Linked DNA regions of Homo sapiens: region 2 is linked to region 1. The links come from fine-mapping of genetic effects on gene expression. Tissue or cell type: whole blood. Region 1 holds a variant in brackets; the other region holds the start of a gene. All regions are shown on one strand. Distances are from middle to middle. Region 1 overlaps LOC124901260 (a long non-coding RNA gene). Region 2 holds the start of EDN1 (endothelin 1).

Region 1 (8,334 bases):
CACGCCTGTAATCCCACCACTTTGGGAGGCCGAGGTGGGAGGATCACTTGAGGTCAGGAGTTCAAGACCAACCTGGCCAATATGGTGAAACCCTGTCTCTACTAAAAACACAAAAAATATTTGTCAGGCCTGTGGCAGGCATCTGTCATCCCAGCTACTCGGGAGGCTGAGGCAAGAGAATCACTTGAACCCGGGAGGCAGAAGTTGCAGTGAGTTGAGATGGCGCCACTGCACTCCAGCCTGGGTGACAGGGCAAGACTCTATCTCAAAAAAAAAAAAAAAAAAAGGGAAACCCAAAATGCAGCAGAAAACCAATTTAAGTCCGTGCTTCTATTTCTTTGTGATTTGGTTTTCGTGGGAGTTTGGGCTTGAGGGGATGTAGGCGTTCCTCTGGGGTGTGATAGCACATTTGTGCCATGATAAGGCCAGTCCCTGTCCCAGTGGAGTCATTTCTCAAGTCCTGCGTCATGGGGAAAGTGAAGGTCTCCCCTGCCCACTCTACTCCCACTCAAGTGGCTGCAGAAGAGGGGGATATTAGGCACCATAGGACAGGAAGAGCCACAGACTCAGTGACCTCTATGCAATGAGGAGGTTGGTCAGAGCGCATTTGTCAGAGAACCAGCTGTGAAATGTATGGAGGCGGAGGGGAAGCACTTTCCAAGGTTAACCAATCCAACCCTTAGACTGCCAGCTGTCCTCGCTTAGAACCACGGCTGATGCAGCTGTGGTTGAAGCATGGACATCTAGTTATCGTAGGAAGAGAGATGGAGAATTCTTCCCTTGCAGTCAATTTGTAAGCTGATGCAAGAAAACCACCATTGTAGCCACAAAATCAAAATCAAAGAGGAAAGTGAAAGAATAGGACCCAGGCAGGCTGTGCAACCAAGCATTTCCTTTAGCTCCTCTTGACCAAAGGCATCCCAATTTCCCAGTGAAGATGAATTAGAAATTACATGAGAACCATACGGTAGATTATTTCTGGATTGGTGTATAAATATATACAGCACTGACGCCAATTGTTTGAAAAACTGCATGTGTTATATCAGTTGGGTGAGTTTAGCTCTTCTCAATGGATCTTTTAGTTATTGGAATAAAATTCCAACTTATAGCAACTTCTTCAGTATAAATTAGGCAGACTTTCAGCAAGTCCTGTGAATACCCAGTTCCTGGCACACAGTGGGCCTCATTACAAGTTGACTGAAGAACCTCAGTTCTGGGTTCTGTGACAATTCTGGGCCCAGAGTTGTCACAGGGCAAATGAGATAAGCAGCATTGCTTGGAGAATGTTGCCTCAATCATTCGTGTTCCTTTCTGGCTGTGATGTATATTACACTCTCCATAGTAATTGTCTGTCTCCATAAACCCATTTAAAAATACACATGTTAACATAATAGGATTGCTAATTATACTTGGATGTTCTTGTTCCTTTTTCTGACTCTATAATAAAGCCTCAAAATGCTAGCTAGGTCATGGCCACCTAAAAGAAATTACATTTTCTTGACCGCCTTCCAGCAGATACGGCCAAGTGACTACACTTTGGTCAATGGATATAAACAAAAGAAATGTGTAAGGCTCCAGGATCTATCTTTTAGGGGTAGGGGTAGGCCCTTCTCCTGCCTCTTTTCTCATCCCTACCTGCAATAACTTAAATATGATGGCTTAAGCTAGAAGAACCATTTTGGACCATAAAGTAAAAATCCTCTGTTGAAAATAGAGGGAACAGGCCTGGTGCAGTGACTCGCACCTCTAATCCCAGCACTTTGGGAGGCTGAGGCAGGAGAATTGCTTGAGCCCAGGAGTTTGAGATCAGCTTGGGCAACATAGGGAGACCTGGTCTCTACAAAAAATACAAAAATTAGCTGGGCATGGTGGTGTGTGCCTGTGGTCCCAGCTATTCAGGAGGCTAAGGCAGGAGAATCACTTGAGCCCAGAAGGCAGAGGTTGTAGTGATCTGAGATTGCAACATGGCACTTCAGCCTGGGTGTCTCAAAAACAGAAAACAAAAAACAAAAACAGAAAAGGAAAAAGAAAGAAAATAGAATAGCATGATAAAAGGAGTGTAGGTTGAGTGAGAGAGAGGATTTGGTGGAACAGAGGTTATAAAGTAAAATAAAAGCAAAGGTATTATGGATAAAATCCATGTTCAGACATCATCATTCTGATTGCTTATAGGCAGAATTGGTAGAATTCAGGTAGGCCAGATGCCATGAAATTTTGTATTGACAAAGAGACCAGCAGTCTAGACTGCAAAAGCCTTTGACCATTCAATACCTAAGGTGACCACCTTTCCCAGACAGCCAGCAGGAAGGCTGTGAAAGCTGTGAAGGCTTTAAGAAAGGCGCGCACTTGGGAGTATTATGAGCTGGGAAACATTTCCTAAAGGGAGAGAAAACCCACAGGCGGCAGTGAATGAAGAAGTTTTGCCCAGTGAGCAGGTGAGAGTCCAGCTGACTCTCATGATTTTGTTTTCTCTTTCTGCCCAGTGGGATCTGATAATATTTAGAGATAAGGAACTATTATGTGATTCTCAGTTTTTAATTTTTCTGAGTGGGAGAAATGTTTGTTTATATAAAGTTTGTCCTGTTCTTATTGGACTTGTAGGTGTGTTGTATTAGGTAACTTACATTTCTATTTTGTAGGGCCCCTGAAAATGAGTAGTTACACTCAGACCTGATAAAGAGCATGGAATAGTACCTGAAAATCCTGGACTTAGAACCAGATGCATGAATTTGGTGGAACTCTGGGATTCTTTATCTGGGAGTACAGGGGTTGAGTACATTTCAAACATGGAAATAAGGGTACACTGAGATACATGGGTGGCCAAAGGGGAGACATAGCTGTCTTTCAATATCTATTATCCCTTAGGTTCTGTGAACCTGAAAGAACCAAGGACTATAAAGAGCAGTGGTGTACAACTCCCAGGAATTGTCTTTAATGGGAGATCATGTGGCTTTATCTTGTCTCTTTTTTGCATCCTGCTGCCTGGAACACAGATGTGATGGCTGGTGTTGATCCTGCTGTGTGCTGAGGGAGATGGAACATCAAGGTAGAAAGCACTGGACCTTCTAAGCATGGTGGAGCCATTATGCCAGCCCTGGATCATTTACATTCAGATGAGTGTGCAAATTTTTATTCCCTTAAAGCCACTTAGATTTTGAATTTTCAGTCACTCTCAGCTGAACCCAATCCTTACTGCTCTTGGAAGACATTTACACTGTGGGAACCTTAGGATGCACTTTTTTTTCTTTTCTTTCTTTCTTTCTTTTTTTTTTTTTTATTGAGATGGAGTCTCACTCTGTCACTCAGGCTGGAGTACAGTGGTGTGATCTTGGCTCACCGCAACCTCTGCCTCCTGGGTTCAAGCGATTCTCCTGCCTCAGCCTCCTGAGTAGCTGTTATTACAGGTGTGCACCCCACACCCGGCTAATTTTTGTATTTTTAGTAGAGACCGGGTTTTGGTTTCTCCATGTTGGCCAGGCTGGTCTTGAACTCCTGACCTCAGGTGATCTGCCCGCCTCAGCCTCCCAAAGTGCTGGGAAGGACACACTTTTATAAGCAGGCATCTTTGGAGATCTTGGTGGGAGAGATGGCTCAAGGAGAGGAAAAGAGGGAGGTATTAGTACAACTGGGTTTTTATAGGCCCAGCACTAGCTTCATAAAAGTTATTTGCAAAAAAAGTACGGGTCTGTGTTTTTGTCTGATGAGGTGGCCCATTGCTCTATGGTAAGTGGAATACATAATTGCTCACCTTTGCTTTTGGAAATTAAATGTATTTAGAATTGAAACCAGCTTATGGTTTTCTTCTCTTACTCATGTTCATAGAAGATGATCCTATGAGTAACACTTTTTTTGGAGACTCAATCATTGTTTCCAGTCTCTTGCATTCTCTAGTAGGTGGTTTATCTTCAGTAACTTTTGCAAATTGCATCAACATACTTGCCTCCTACAAATTTAAACTCAATAAACCAAGGAGAACAAGGGTGTGATGGTGGGAATTTCTTTTGAAAGAGTCAAGCCCATGCTGTGCAGGCTGCACCCATCTTTACTGCATTCCCATAAAAGGCTTGGGGGAAGGAAGTTAAACCATAACCCCGTTAGGTAATAGGCTATGCATTAATGCAATTTATCTGGAATGAGGAAGGAAGAGATTCAGCTTTGAAAGAATTTCCTCAACAGCATATTCCTCTTTGCTGCAAAGCTGTTTCACTTCAGGTGAGACCCAGGAAGCAGCCTGGGAATTCCTTGACCATCGATACCAAAGGCTTTCTGGAGGTGTGCAGTCTCTAGGGATTTGAGGGTGTCGCCCAACAGTCAGTGTGATTTTACAACCAGTTCTCTCTAGGCTAATTTCTAACGCAGGGAATGAGAATGGTCATGCTGAAAAGTGGTAGAGAGATTTGACTCGCCTGATTGCAAGGACCAGGTCTACCACCCAGTAATTGTGTGGACTAGAAGGTGGTGGAGTGAGTAGTGACCTCTGAAGAGTGTGACCTCTCAAGCCAACTGCTTGAGCTCCAATTCTGCCTCTGCTACTTTGTGACTGTGTAGCCCTGGGAAAGTTATTTTACCTCTCTGTGCCTCAGTCATTTCCTCTATAAAATAGGTCTCTATATGGACCTACCTTATAAGGTTGCTGTGAGTGGCACATGCAAATGTGTTTATAAAGTATATCCCATGGTATGTGGCGTAATTTATTTTTTGAGGGGAGATAGTGAGGTGCTAGTTACACACTGGGATGAGGTAGATCCTTGTTTGGATCTCAGCCTTGCTGCTCCCTGGGTAGGTGGCTTTGGATCGCTGCTCACCTTGCCAGGTCCCTCTGGCTCCTCCTTGGCTGAACATGCTTTGACTACACTGACCTTTCTGTTTCTCCAGCCCTCCTCATGGCCTGTATATAATATTTCTTCCAGTTGGAATGCTCTCT[A/G]TTAACCATTATGATTCTCATGAAGGCTGTTTCTGTTCTCCAGGCTGGGTTCAGGTCTCTGTGATATCACTCAAGGAGTTTTGTACCTACCCTCCTGAGCACTTAGAATTATGCTAGAGTATTCATTTGTATAATTACAGTTGACTCTTAGGCAGCTCCAGGGATGGGGGCACCAACTCTCCTTGCAGTCAAAAATCCACAGATAACTTTTGATTCCCCAAAAACTTAACTAGTAATAACCCGCTGTTGACCAGAAACCTTAGTGATAACATAAACAGCCAATTAACACCCATTTTGTATGTTATATGTATTATATACTGTATTCTTATGATAAAGTAAGTTAAGAAAAGAAAATGTTATTTAAAAAATCATAAAGAAGAGAAAATATATTTGCTATTCAGTAAGTGGAAGTGGATCATCTTAAAGGGCTTCATCCGTGATGTCCTCACATTGAGTAAAGAGGAGGAGGAGGAGGAGAGGAGGAGGAGGAGGAGGAGAGGAGGAGGAGGAGGGGCTGGTCTTGATGTCTCAGGGGCGGCAGAGGTGGAAGAGGTGGAGGAGGTGGGAGGGAGGCAGGAGAGGCAGGCACACTGGGGGTAACTATTATTAATGAAAATCCTTGTGCAAGTGGATCTGCACAGTTCAACCCATGTTATTCAAGGGTCAACTGTATTCCTATCTGTACTCAGGACTGTGAGTTCCAAGCATGGTTAACAAGTCCTGTGTCTTTCAACCCAATGTCTATACTGGTGCCTGGCTCAGAGGGGACAAAACAAATACATGAATGCTGAATTAATACATACATACATAAAATGAATGTGAGAAGAATTTCCTTTTCTGATGGTTTTATAAACTATGAGCTACTTGAAGGCAGATTACATTTCATCTATAGTTATATCCCCAAAAGCCTATAGTTAGCAAGAAATTAATGTATTTGTCATGTGGATGAGTAAACTGTACCATAGTGATTCGAATTTAATTCACTAACATATAACATTCTGATTTGAAAATAAATAAAATTACTTTAGAAAAGCTTATGTTGGATATAACCTAATTTATACAAATATTCTTTTTTTATTTGTCAATTGAGAAAGTATTTAGTTACTCGTGATGGAAACTTTCTCTTTTTTTATATTAGAGATGTTATCTCACTGCAGACTATAAGTTAAGACTTGTAGCACAGCCATTCTGATAGATTTTGTTCTCAGAATTCATTTATCCTCTAAAAAGTATTGAGGATCCCAGGAAGCTTTCATTTGTGTGGGTTACATTTACTATATCAAAGAATATATTTACTATATCAAAGAAATATTTTAAAAACATTTAAAATATTTATTTGTTTAAAGCAATAATAAACTCAATACAAATTAAATAAATTAACTAATTTTAATAAAATTAATTATATTTTCCTATGGATCTTTTGCCCATGCATGATTTTGCCAGGTAATGCATCAATCATTTGGAAAATATTAATTCATTGAGTGAATATTTGACCTTTCAAATGTTGGCTATACAATATTTTGAAAAATCACATTTGTTACTATCACTGATCTCATTAGAAAAGTCTTTGAGGCATTGGGAAGCTGTCTGGTTTACACAAGCAGGTACAAGTTTACCAAAATTCAAAGTTTTGCTTGAAGGTTCAAATGTTATTTTCAGCAACGAATAATGTTTGTTATTTTCCTTGAAGTGACAGGCTCTCTATTTAGTCTCAAGAAAAAGTTTGTCAAATAGCCAAGGCTGAATAACAATAGTTTGCAGTCAGTTGTCTTTTAGGGAAAAAATGCTTCCATGCAAAAATAGGCTATTTCAGCCTACAACTCATAGCAAGTGTGTAAGTATTAGAGTATACTGTAAGTGCTTCATGCTCACAATTACTACAAATGTCAACATGGTAAAGAAGGCAAATAACGTCTTAATATTATTTAAAAAATAGTTTTGATCTTATGCTCCTGCAAAAGGATCTTAGAGAAGCCCAGGGGTCCACAGACCACACTTTGAGAGCCGCTGCTCTAGGGTATTCTAACATTAAATTACAAGACTCATTGACCCCACACAGATGAAATTTACAACAATATGGCTTTTAATTAATCAACTTTTCCTGCAACTTCTACCCTATCAGGAACAAATAAGCCAAGAGCAAAATGTTACAAAAGATTGTGATAACTGAGTTTAAGATCAATGTACGAGAACTGTCTTATCAATATCACCCATAATTATTAGTGTAAAGAAGTCACAAAATGTCTTTTAAAAAATTCTACCCTGAAAATATTTCAGAATGTAAGAAGTGGCAATAATTATAATAAGTGGCTACAAACTCCACTTTGAATGCATTTTCAGCAGCTTTTTTCCTAAACATTTATCACGTATTATTTTATTTTAACATGTCTCTGTGATATGGGTACATAGGACTTGATATCATCTCTGTTTTAGAGATGAGGAAACTGAGAAAAAAATGACTAGATTCACCCACCATTGCCTAGGAAACTGGCGGTGGAACTGGGTAGCTCTCCTGATGAATATTTCAATGCCTTTTCTTTTTCACCCTGTGGAATCACTTGGCCAGCCAGACTCAGCAAACACGTTTCATGTCAATAAAAAGAGAATATTCCAATGAGCCCAGTGACTTTGGAAATCCCTAAAGTGGAGTGTTCCAAGTAACTGAAAACCTGGGGGGAAAGAGTGACCTCTGTGAGCTTTTCCAGCTTCCACTTCTGCTGATGGGTGGAAGTTCATAGGAAGGAAGACATTCTCTTAGCCTGGGCTATGTCCCTTGCTAAATTTAGGATTCCAGATTATAGAAACACCCTCAGATGACCAAGCCCTCCACCCCTGATGTTCTGGGAGCTCTCATTCTGAAAGAACAAATGCATTTTTCCTTCCCCTTTGGAACCAGATAGTAAACTTGGCCAAGGAGCCTGCCAGCCACTGGCCTGGTGTGAGTGAGTGGGGTGATTATTTGGAGATTTAGGCAGAAAGTGTTGAAGGGAAAGAGGCTGTGGGTGGGGAGGGACAATCAGCTAAAGAGATGGGAAGTATCATCCTCTTGTCTTGTTAAAGCAGAAAACTGTTTAAAATGTCATGCCCATATTTACTAGCTGTTTATAGGTAACAGAATCTCCTCTGTGTGTCGTCAGTGAGTAATTGCCATAACAATGTTGTATTTACATGACCCATATTTTACCCCACAAAGGCAGAGAAGATCCTTAAAGAAATTGCATATACCTCTATGGTGTGTAGAGAAGAACAGCTGCTTTCCTCCCTCTTCCTACTCATATGGCTCTTGAAAATGCTCTCAGCCTCTTCCTTTAATAATTTCCATCATGTCCTCCTCTGCCCTTTAGATTGTAGCACACGATTTAAATGGAAGGTGCAGGGAAGTGTTTCTGAGTGGTTTGCCTGACTCAAGC
Region 2 (8,334 bases), 48 kb after region 1:
GGGATTACAGGCATGCGCCACCATGCCTGGCTAATTTTGAATTTTTAGTAGACATGGGATTTCTCCATGTTGGTCAGGGTGGTCTCGAACTCCTGACCTCAGGTGATCCACTTGCCTCGGCCTCGGGATTACAAGTGTGAGCCACCATGCCCAGCCAAACATTTTTATTTTTAATAGCTTAATGAATGTATAATGATTAAATGTTTAGCATGTATTAAACTATGATTTCATGTAGTTTTTTTAACCATACCAACCATGATTTCATATGGATTATTTAAGCATACCAACCATAATTTCATGTACATTATTGCTTAAGATAGTAATGATATAAAATTTTCTTAAAATTATTCATGTAAAAGAAACAAGTCAGTTAAAAGGAAAATATTAAGTAAAAATGTACAGGTGGCACCCAAATATGGTAAAAATTGTGAAGCAGTTTAATGAATAACTGAACTTTGGGAAATGCTAGATTAGAGAATTGGAAATACTCTTTTAAATAAACACTTGCTATCTATGATTATCCTATGGATGAGTGTCCAAGAAATAGAGATGCATATGTTGTATGTTTTTAAAATGTACAGGATGAATTTACATTGACCATCATATTTCCTGTGCTAAATCAACCATTATTTTTTGGACTATAGGGAGAAGCTGTGTTTCTTCATAGCTCCTGGAGATGTGTGATGTGTCACAGGCCTAATAACTATATTACACATTTTTTCACAAAAGTGCTACATAGAGTAGAAATGTATAATAGTTACCAACCCAAGACTAAATCAGGCCTAGTGGTGTGGATAGCTTCACTTTGCCTATGATAAAATACTTCCTCATTCTTTGTGTGATTTTCAAGCAACTTAACGACTGTTAGCTTTGCTGAGCTAAATGCAACATCTCATACCAAATTTATTGGCTTGGCAAAGTTACAAATTTTATTACGCAAAAGTTGAGAAAGGAAAGCTGGAGAATGCTAAAAACAGTACAATTTGCTACTGTGTAGTATCTGTATTGGGGGCTCAGCATGTTTTATTTATAGATATCTATTAATACAGAGATACAGAAAGAAATACATAAAAAATAGTTTTATCAAATACTTTCCAGCATTCAAGTGTAGCCTCAAAAGCAAGAATAGGCCAGGAGTGGTGGCTCACGCCTGTAATCACAGCACTGTGGGAGGCCAAGGTAAGAGGATTGCTTGAGGCCAGGATTTCAAGACCAGCCTAGGCAACATAGTGAGATCCCTATCTCTACGAAAAAATTTTAAAACTTAGCTGGGCATGGTGGCTTGAGCCTGTTGTCCCAGCTACTCAGGAGGCTGAAGTAGGAGTGTCACTTGAGCCCAGGAGGTTGAGGCTGCAGTGAGCTATAACTGCACCACTGCACTCCAGCCTTGGAGACAGAGTGAGACCCTGTCCCCAAAAAAATTAAAATTGAGAAAAAAAAAAAAGGCAAGAACAGCCACAGCAAACTTTCTATTGGGGAAAAAAAAAAATCCTCCTCTTTACATCTCTCCCTTCCTTCCCTTCCCTTTCTGAGAGTGACTGTGGCCAAAAGGAGCATTTTCCCCCTGCAGTCCTCTGAGGGGTGGGGTGGGGCTATGAAGCTATCCTTCATATTCACTCCTTTGTCCAGCTCTTTTCACCTCTAGTTCTTCTCCCCGCATCTCTGTCTAGCAGTGCCTTAAGTGGAGGAGGGGTGGGGGCATCAAGCTTGTAAAACTGGTTTGTTGGGGTTCTCCTTCTCCCCTCATTTCTTGATTCTTGGGAAAATGTCTTGCTGGGAGGCTGCCTGGCAGTGCCCTAGCTGCCTTCTGTGGGCTTGAATGGGGCTTCCCTCTGCCCCTACAGGAGGAAAAGGGAGCTGCTGCCAGAGGGAGAAATGGAGAGATGGACAGAGAAGGCAGGTGCCACCCCTCGCCCCTGACACACAAAGAAAAAGACACGGAAATTCTCTCTCTCTCTTCTCTTCTCCTATCTCTCTCTCTCTCCCTCTCTCTCTCTCTCTCTCTCTCTCACACACACACACACACACACACACACACACACACACACACAGGCGCGCGCGCGCGCGCGCAGGCACACGTCTTGCAAATTCAGGATTCAAAGAGACAGGGGCACCATTATATTTGGCACGGTGGGGCCCTTCCAGGTCTGAAATCCTGCATTCTTCCTTACTATTTACTTTCCCCGAGCTCGAGAAGGGCCAGGTGTGGGCGGATGGCTGGCCACGTTTTGTGTTTCCAATTCATATTCACGGGATGACACAGACGGGGCGTGGTGAGTGCTGTTGGAGGCGCTTGGGCAGTTTCATTTTGCCCCACTTCTCCACCTGAAGGCTGGGCGTTGCTGGAACCTGCAGGGGCAGCCTCAGCAAGGTGGGGTGGCGTGGAGTGGGGTGGGAGAAGGGACTCCAGCTGAAGTAGAACCCAGGCTGGACCTGAGAATATTGGGGAGGGCATGGGCGGTGGTTTCCGGGTAGGGGCCTTGAGAACATGTTGGTCCTGACTGTTGTCAGTGTTTGGTCAAAGTTGCCAAAAGGTTAAAAAAAAAAAAGTAGGGGGAGTCCCTGCCAAGACATATTTCCCAGGCCACCTTTCTTCCGCGGGAGTGTTGGGGGGGAGGCGCTGCTTGGAACCTGTGAATGTGACATCAGCTCTCCTCTCCTCTCCCAAGGTCGGCTTTGGAGAGGGAGGTCAGGGCACCCTTGCCTGGCACAGGCGGCAGCGCTGGCTTCCGGCTCAGTGCCGCCTGTCCTCCGGGAGCTGTGGCCTCCCTGGGCCCCGGGGCTAGGCTGAGGTAAGCGCACAGCGGAGGCCAGGGGCCCCGGCAGAGGCCCTGGGGATAGGGTGGAGGCATCTCTGGGTGTGGGTGTGGGTGTGGGTGTGGGAGGGAGAGTTCTTGCCTCTCTCTCTCCCATCTCCAACTCTTGCTTCAGTGGCTCTTTTAGAGGATGCATGTCATTATGGACCTGTCGCTGCCACTGTCCCTGTTCCCCCAGCTGTGACTTCGAGGGAGGTCTGGGGATCTGAGTCTGTCCAAACCCACGGCTTTGCTGTTGGGATAAAAACTGTCCTTTTGATTTTAGAAGGAGGAGGGAAAAAAGGTTTCCCAGCATGTGTGTTGTGCCAGTCTTGGAAATTCATCCGTGCTTGAATTCCACCCTCCATCCCCAGAAAAACTGGAGTAAAACAAAAAGAGGAGATGGACAAAGTGTGTATTTGATGGCATCCCCTGGGAAGAGACTCTAAATTTATCCCATAGGTCTTACTGGGCCACTGTGAGCGCTTTGGTGGAGAACAAACAAAAATTCTGGGTGCTCAGTTGTCTAACCTGAAAAATGGGACTAGCGGAAAAAGCCAATGTGTTCCATGCACCTTTTGCTTTCTTTATTAAGGCATGATGTCACCTGTACAGTAACTGCCCTGTGTGTACTTCAGGGGGGGATTTCAAGGTTAGATAGACAGGAAATTGTTTTGAAAATGTAAACACATTATTAAATGTGAAGTATTATCTGATTCCTTGTTCGAATGGCATTTCCTTCTCAGCACCACCTTCCTTGCATATTCACTTAACCTTGTACAAGAACACCTTTTTGCCCTAAATGAAGACACCCCCCCAAAAAAAAGAGTCCCAGAAAATATGTCCCTGCTTGTGCGGGGAATAAATAGAATATTCTGAGGTGCATTCCTCCTTCCTATGTTAGGCAACATTCCTTGACCCTCCTCGGCCCCCAAGCCAGGTTGCGTTTTTTTCTGCCATTTAGAAGGGTTTTCCTTTTTGTCCTAGTAAAACATCAGCCCCTGTAGCTCTTCATCTCCCCCTGGTGTTCTTCTCCCGCCATGTCTTAAGATTGGTGGCACCGACCAATCTTAAGATTTAAGTTCTGTGTGAAAAACACCTTTGCTTTTCAATCAGTTTATCAGCCTCCTCCGCAGGGGAAGTGTGGACACACAAAAGAACTTATCGGGGCTTCTCATCAGTGATAGGGAAAAGACTGGGCATGTGCCTAAACGAGCTCTGATGTTATTTTTAAGCTCCCTTTCTTGCCAATCCCTCACGGATCTTTCTCCGATAGATGCAAAGAACTTCAGCAAAAAAGACCCGCAGGAAGGGGCTTGAAGAGAAAAGTACGTTGATCTGCCAAAATAGTCTGACCCCCAGTAGTGGGGCAGTGACGAGGGAGAGCATTCCCTTGTTTGACTGAGACTAGAATCGGAGAGACATAAAAGGAAAATGAAGCGAGCAACAATTAAAAAAAATTCCCCGCACACAACAATACAATCTATTTAAACTGTGGCTCATACTTTTCATACCAATGGTATGACTTTTTTTCTGGAGTCCCCTCTTCTGATTCTTGAACTCCGGGGCTGGCAGCTTGCAAAGGGGAAGCGGACTCCAGCACTGCACGGGCAGGTTTAGCAAAGGTCTCTAATGGGTATTTTCTTTTTCTTAGCCCTGCCCCCGAATTGTCAGACGGCGGGCGTCTGCCTCTGAAGTTAGCAGTGATTTCCTTTCGGGCCTGGCCTTATCTCCGGCTGCACGTTGCCTGTTGGTGACTAATAACACAATAACATTGTCTGGGGCTGGAATAAAGTCGGAGCTGTTTACCCCCACTCTAATAGGGGTTCAATATAAAAAGCCGGCAGAGAGCTGTCCAAGTCAGACGCGCCTCTGCATCTGCGCCAGGCGAACGGGTCCTGCGCCTCCTGCAGTCCCAGCTCTCCACCGCCGCGTGCGCCTGCAGACGCTCCGCTCGCTGCCTTCTCTCCTGGCAGGCGCTGCCTTTTCTCCCCGTTAAAAGGGCACTTGGGCTGAAGGATCGCTTTGAGATCTGAGGAACCCGCAGCGCTTTGAGGGACCTGAAGCTGTTTTTCTTCGTTTTCCTTTGGGTTCAGTTTGAACGGGAGGTTTTTGATCCCTTTTTTTCAGAATGGATTATTTGCTCATGATTTTCTCTCTGCTGTTTGTGGCTTGCCAAGGAGCTCCAGAAACAGGTAGGCACGCTCGTTGACTTGTAAGTCTCGGAATTACAAGTTAGTGTGTTCTTATCCACCTTCATGCTTTTCTTGCTTCTATTTTTCCCCGTTCTTTTTATGACTGCAGCTTAGAGAGCAAGTGTCTGAGAATTATTGCTGAAAGCTACTTTAAGTCTTCTAGTGTAAAATGTAAAATTCCTCTATTGAATACAATTAGGTGCAATTGACTATAACATGACATTAAAATAACTTATCGTTTTATTATTATTATTCCATTATGTGTTTCCTTGGCTTTTAAAAAATGAGAAGAGTATGGACATATACAATTTAGTCAAATGTATGTTTGTAATATATGTGTTTATACAGGTACACAGGCCATATAGGAACTTAAATCTTATTTAAACACTATTTTAATAGTGTGTTAACGTGTAAAATATTTAAGCATTCCAGCTTGAAGCCAAGGAATTGTATCCAGTCGTTCAAGCAATGTATGTTCAGTAAAATCACCTGCAGAGCAAAAGTCTGTTGACTAACTACCGCCTCCCCCCCCCCCCGCCACCACCCCCCGCAGGCGGTTTCTGGGTGAAGCAGATGTTTTCTTTAAAATTTGTCATCATTGACTTTAGGTTTCTTTTGGCAGGTTTTTGGCACCCAAAACAGTGTGAGCTCTCTTTTCAGCTTTATTCACCTGTGCTGGGAGGGGAGCTAGGATAATTCTTGGCTGCCGAAGGATTTAGGCAGTGCGTGTGCATCTGCCCGGGTCCCCCCCGTTTTTAGGGTCAGTGCACTTTTTTTGTCTTTTCGTGACCCTGACTAAAGAGAAAGGATGTCAAGGGAATGAAAATCCTGGAATGTGTCTGATCATTTGAAATGTACAAAATTGGGCAGATAAGCTGCATGGCTAAATTGTTAGGAGGAAGAGGCAAGGCAGTAGTGGAGAAGGGGGAGGCAGTGGATCCCACACAAGCCTGATGCCCAGGGATTCGGAATTCAAAATCCCCCCAGCCTACCTTCAGTCCCCTGACCTGCTTCTCAGCCCCACCTTAGGTCACTGGTTTCTATGGAGTTACCCTCCTGAATTGAATATTGAATAGTTAATTTCTCTCTCCAATCATTTTCCCCACCTAATTTTGAAAGATATACATCATCTGGGGTACCCTGTGCCCTACACAGCATGTGAAGTGGATGGGTACCCCCTAAAGAGAGGGTCATCCTGAATGGGGAAGTGGCCCCAAAGCTAGGAATAACTGTGATTTCTTGTCTTTAGTCATGTGCCAATGTTAAGTAAGCTTCAGTGGATAGTGCTGTCCTACCAAGTTCCTTGTAGAAGCCAGCCGGATTTTCAACAGGCAGCATTCCACAGCATTTCCCTGAGCCTGCTTCAAGAGGGGTGGGGGAAGTCCCTTTTCAGGTGTTTATCTCCTCTGCATTTGTGTAATCTCCCTGAAGGTGGATAAGCCAAGGGCATGAGGGGGAGGCAAAAGGTGAACTCATGTTAAGGAGGGAAAAAAATAAAGAGCCCTTTTTTCTGTGTTTCTTGCTGATGGCAGGCTGTGTGCTTCATCTGCTTTTATCTGCTCTGCTAGCTCTGACTCTACTGTGATCCAGCATGTCTCTCGGCGTTTGAGGAGACATCCCCCACTGACCTGCTCTTTCTCTCCCCAGCAGTCTTAGGCGCTGAGCTCAGCGCGGTGGGTGAGAACGGCGGGGAGAAACCCACTCCCAGTCCACCCTGGCGGCTCCGCCGGTCCAAGCGCTGCTCCTGCTCGTCCCTGATGGATAAAGAGTGTGTCTACTTCTGCCACCTGGACATCATTTGGGTCAACACTCCCGAGTAAGTCTCTAGAGGGCATTGTAACCCTAGTCATTCATTAGCGCTGGCTCCACTGGAGCCCAGTTTTAGAGTTTCTTTTCTAGGGACTCTGAAGGTAGTCCTTCTAACACCATCCAAGTGCCTCAGTGGGGACAGTTTCCCTCTATTCCTGAAAATAACGACAGCTTCGTTCTTAGCAACCAAGGGGAGGGTCTTCTGAGGCCCCGTAGCTCAGGCTACTCATGATGGGACAAGCAGGAGGCCACTGCACGTTTCAAATGAGGAACTTTCAGTGAGAGGGCCTCAGGGGGACACTCTCACAGTGGCATCTGATGGGGTTTCGGGAATAATTGCCGAGGTCAGATGTGGGTTAGTGCAACCTGTGCTTCTCATGGGAGGGTGGAGACTGAGAGGCAGAAGTGATGATATAGAGGGTTAGAATCACTTAATTTTACTTACAGAAAAACCTAGGCTCAAAGTGTTGAAGCCATTTGTGCAGGAGTGAGTTTGTAGCAGAGCTAGAACTGGAGCCCGGATTTCCTTTGCTGCTATATTTTCCCTTTAGAAATGCCCATTTCAGAACTGAAATAGAAATACTGTCCATAGGCTTCTCTTTCACCTACAGAGAAGAAAAGCAGATTTCCTCCTTCTGCCCTGGACACTAGTTCATCATCTGTCGGAAGCAGTCATAAACAAGCACACATTTACTATGCATACAATGTACCGTTATGACAAAGGAGGACCAAAATCCAAACAATATCAAACCACACCAAAAACCACAAGGAGCCTAATAATTACTAAGGTGATACTTCCAAAGGGAGGACTTTATTTCTTAGATGAGAATGAAAATGGACACATTGGAAATTATTGGAGAGCCCTCTGGCTATGAGTCCTTCCACAACCATATGGTACCACCGACTGGCAGGAGAAATGTGTGAACATGTGCCTCCTCCTCCCCCAACCACTGGGGTCGGTGGGGTGACGGTGGCACTTTTAGCAGTATCCTCCGTGGTTTGAGTTGAAAATAAGTTTTAAAAATCCTGTGAGTCATGGTTTTGCATTGAAACCTCTTCCCACTGTGTACCCACAAATAGTTAACTAAATAGACCATTAGAAAAGGAAGAAAATATAAAGCAGATGCCAAGCAGAGATGTCCTAATTTTTGACAAAAAAGCAATGTTGCTTGTGTCAAGAAGAAACTGAACTTTGTGAAGAGTTGAAATGGAATTCCACTGAATTAGAAAAACTTGTTTTCTCCTGCCTGGATACATACAGTCAGGGCCATTGATGCACAGGTGTTCCTGGCTGTTGTTACACTTTACCCTCTGAAATGATGCTCCCAAGTGCTATGTGATGAGCTCCTTGTGTGCCCAGTGGAATAGGTGTGTCCATGTGTCATTTTAAAGACTATTAATTACACTAATATAGTTTCTTTCTCTCTTTGGATAATAGGCACGTTGTTCCGTATGGACTTGGAAGCCCTAGGTCCAAGAGAGCCTTGGAGAATTTACTTCCCACAAAGGCAACAGACCGTGAAAATAGATGCCAA

Evidence for each region.
Region 2: EDN1 starts here. The variant in region 1 is fine-mapped to the expression of EDN1 in whole blood (TOPMed, PIP above 0.99).

What each region holds. Positions count from the first base shown.
Region 1 is chr6:12,237,905-12,246,238 of GRCh38, forward strand. LOC124901260 (a long non-coding RNA gene) reads right to left here. Exons shown (of 3, transcript XR_007059454.1): 3 at 3,543-3,590. It also overlaps a transcript of EDN1 not described here. Among named protein-coding and RNA genes, the nearest start is that of EDN1, 48 kb to the right of the region's middle. The variant A/G (reference allele first, on the strand shown) is at 4,925.
Region 2 is chr6:12,285,704-12,294,037 of GRCh38, forward strand. EDN1 (endothelin 1) reads left to right here and starts at 4,658. Exons shown (of 5, transcript NM_001955.5): 1 at 4,658-4,990; 2 at 6,638-6,806; 3 at 8,238-8,334. The coding sequence starts at 4,927. RefSeq lists enhancers at 2,266-2,766, 2,767-3,267, 4,411-4,510, 4,521-4,590.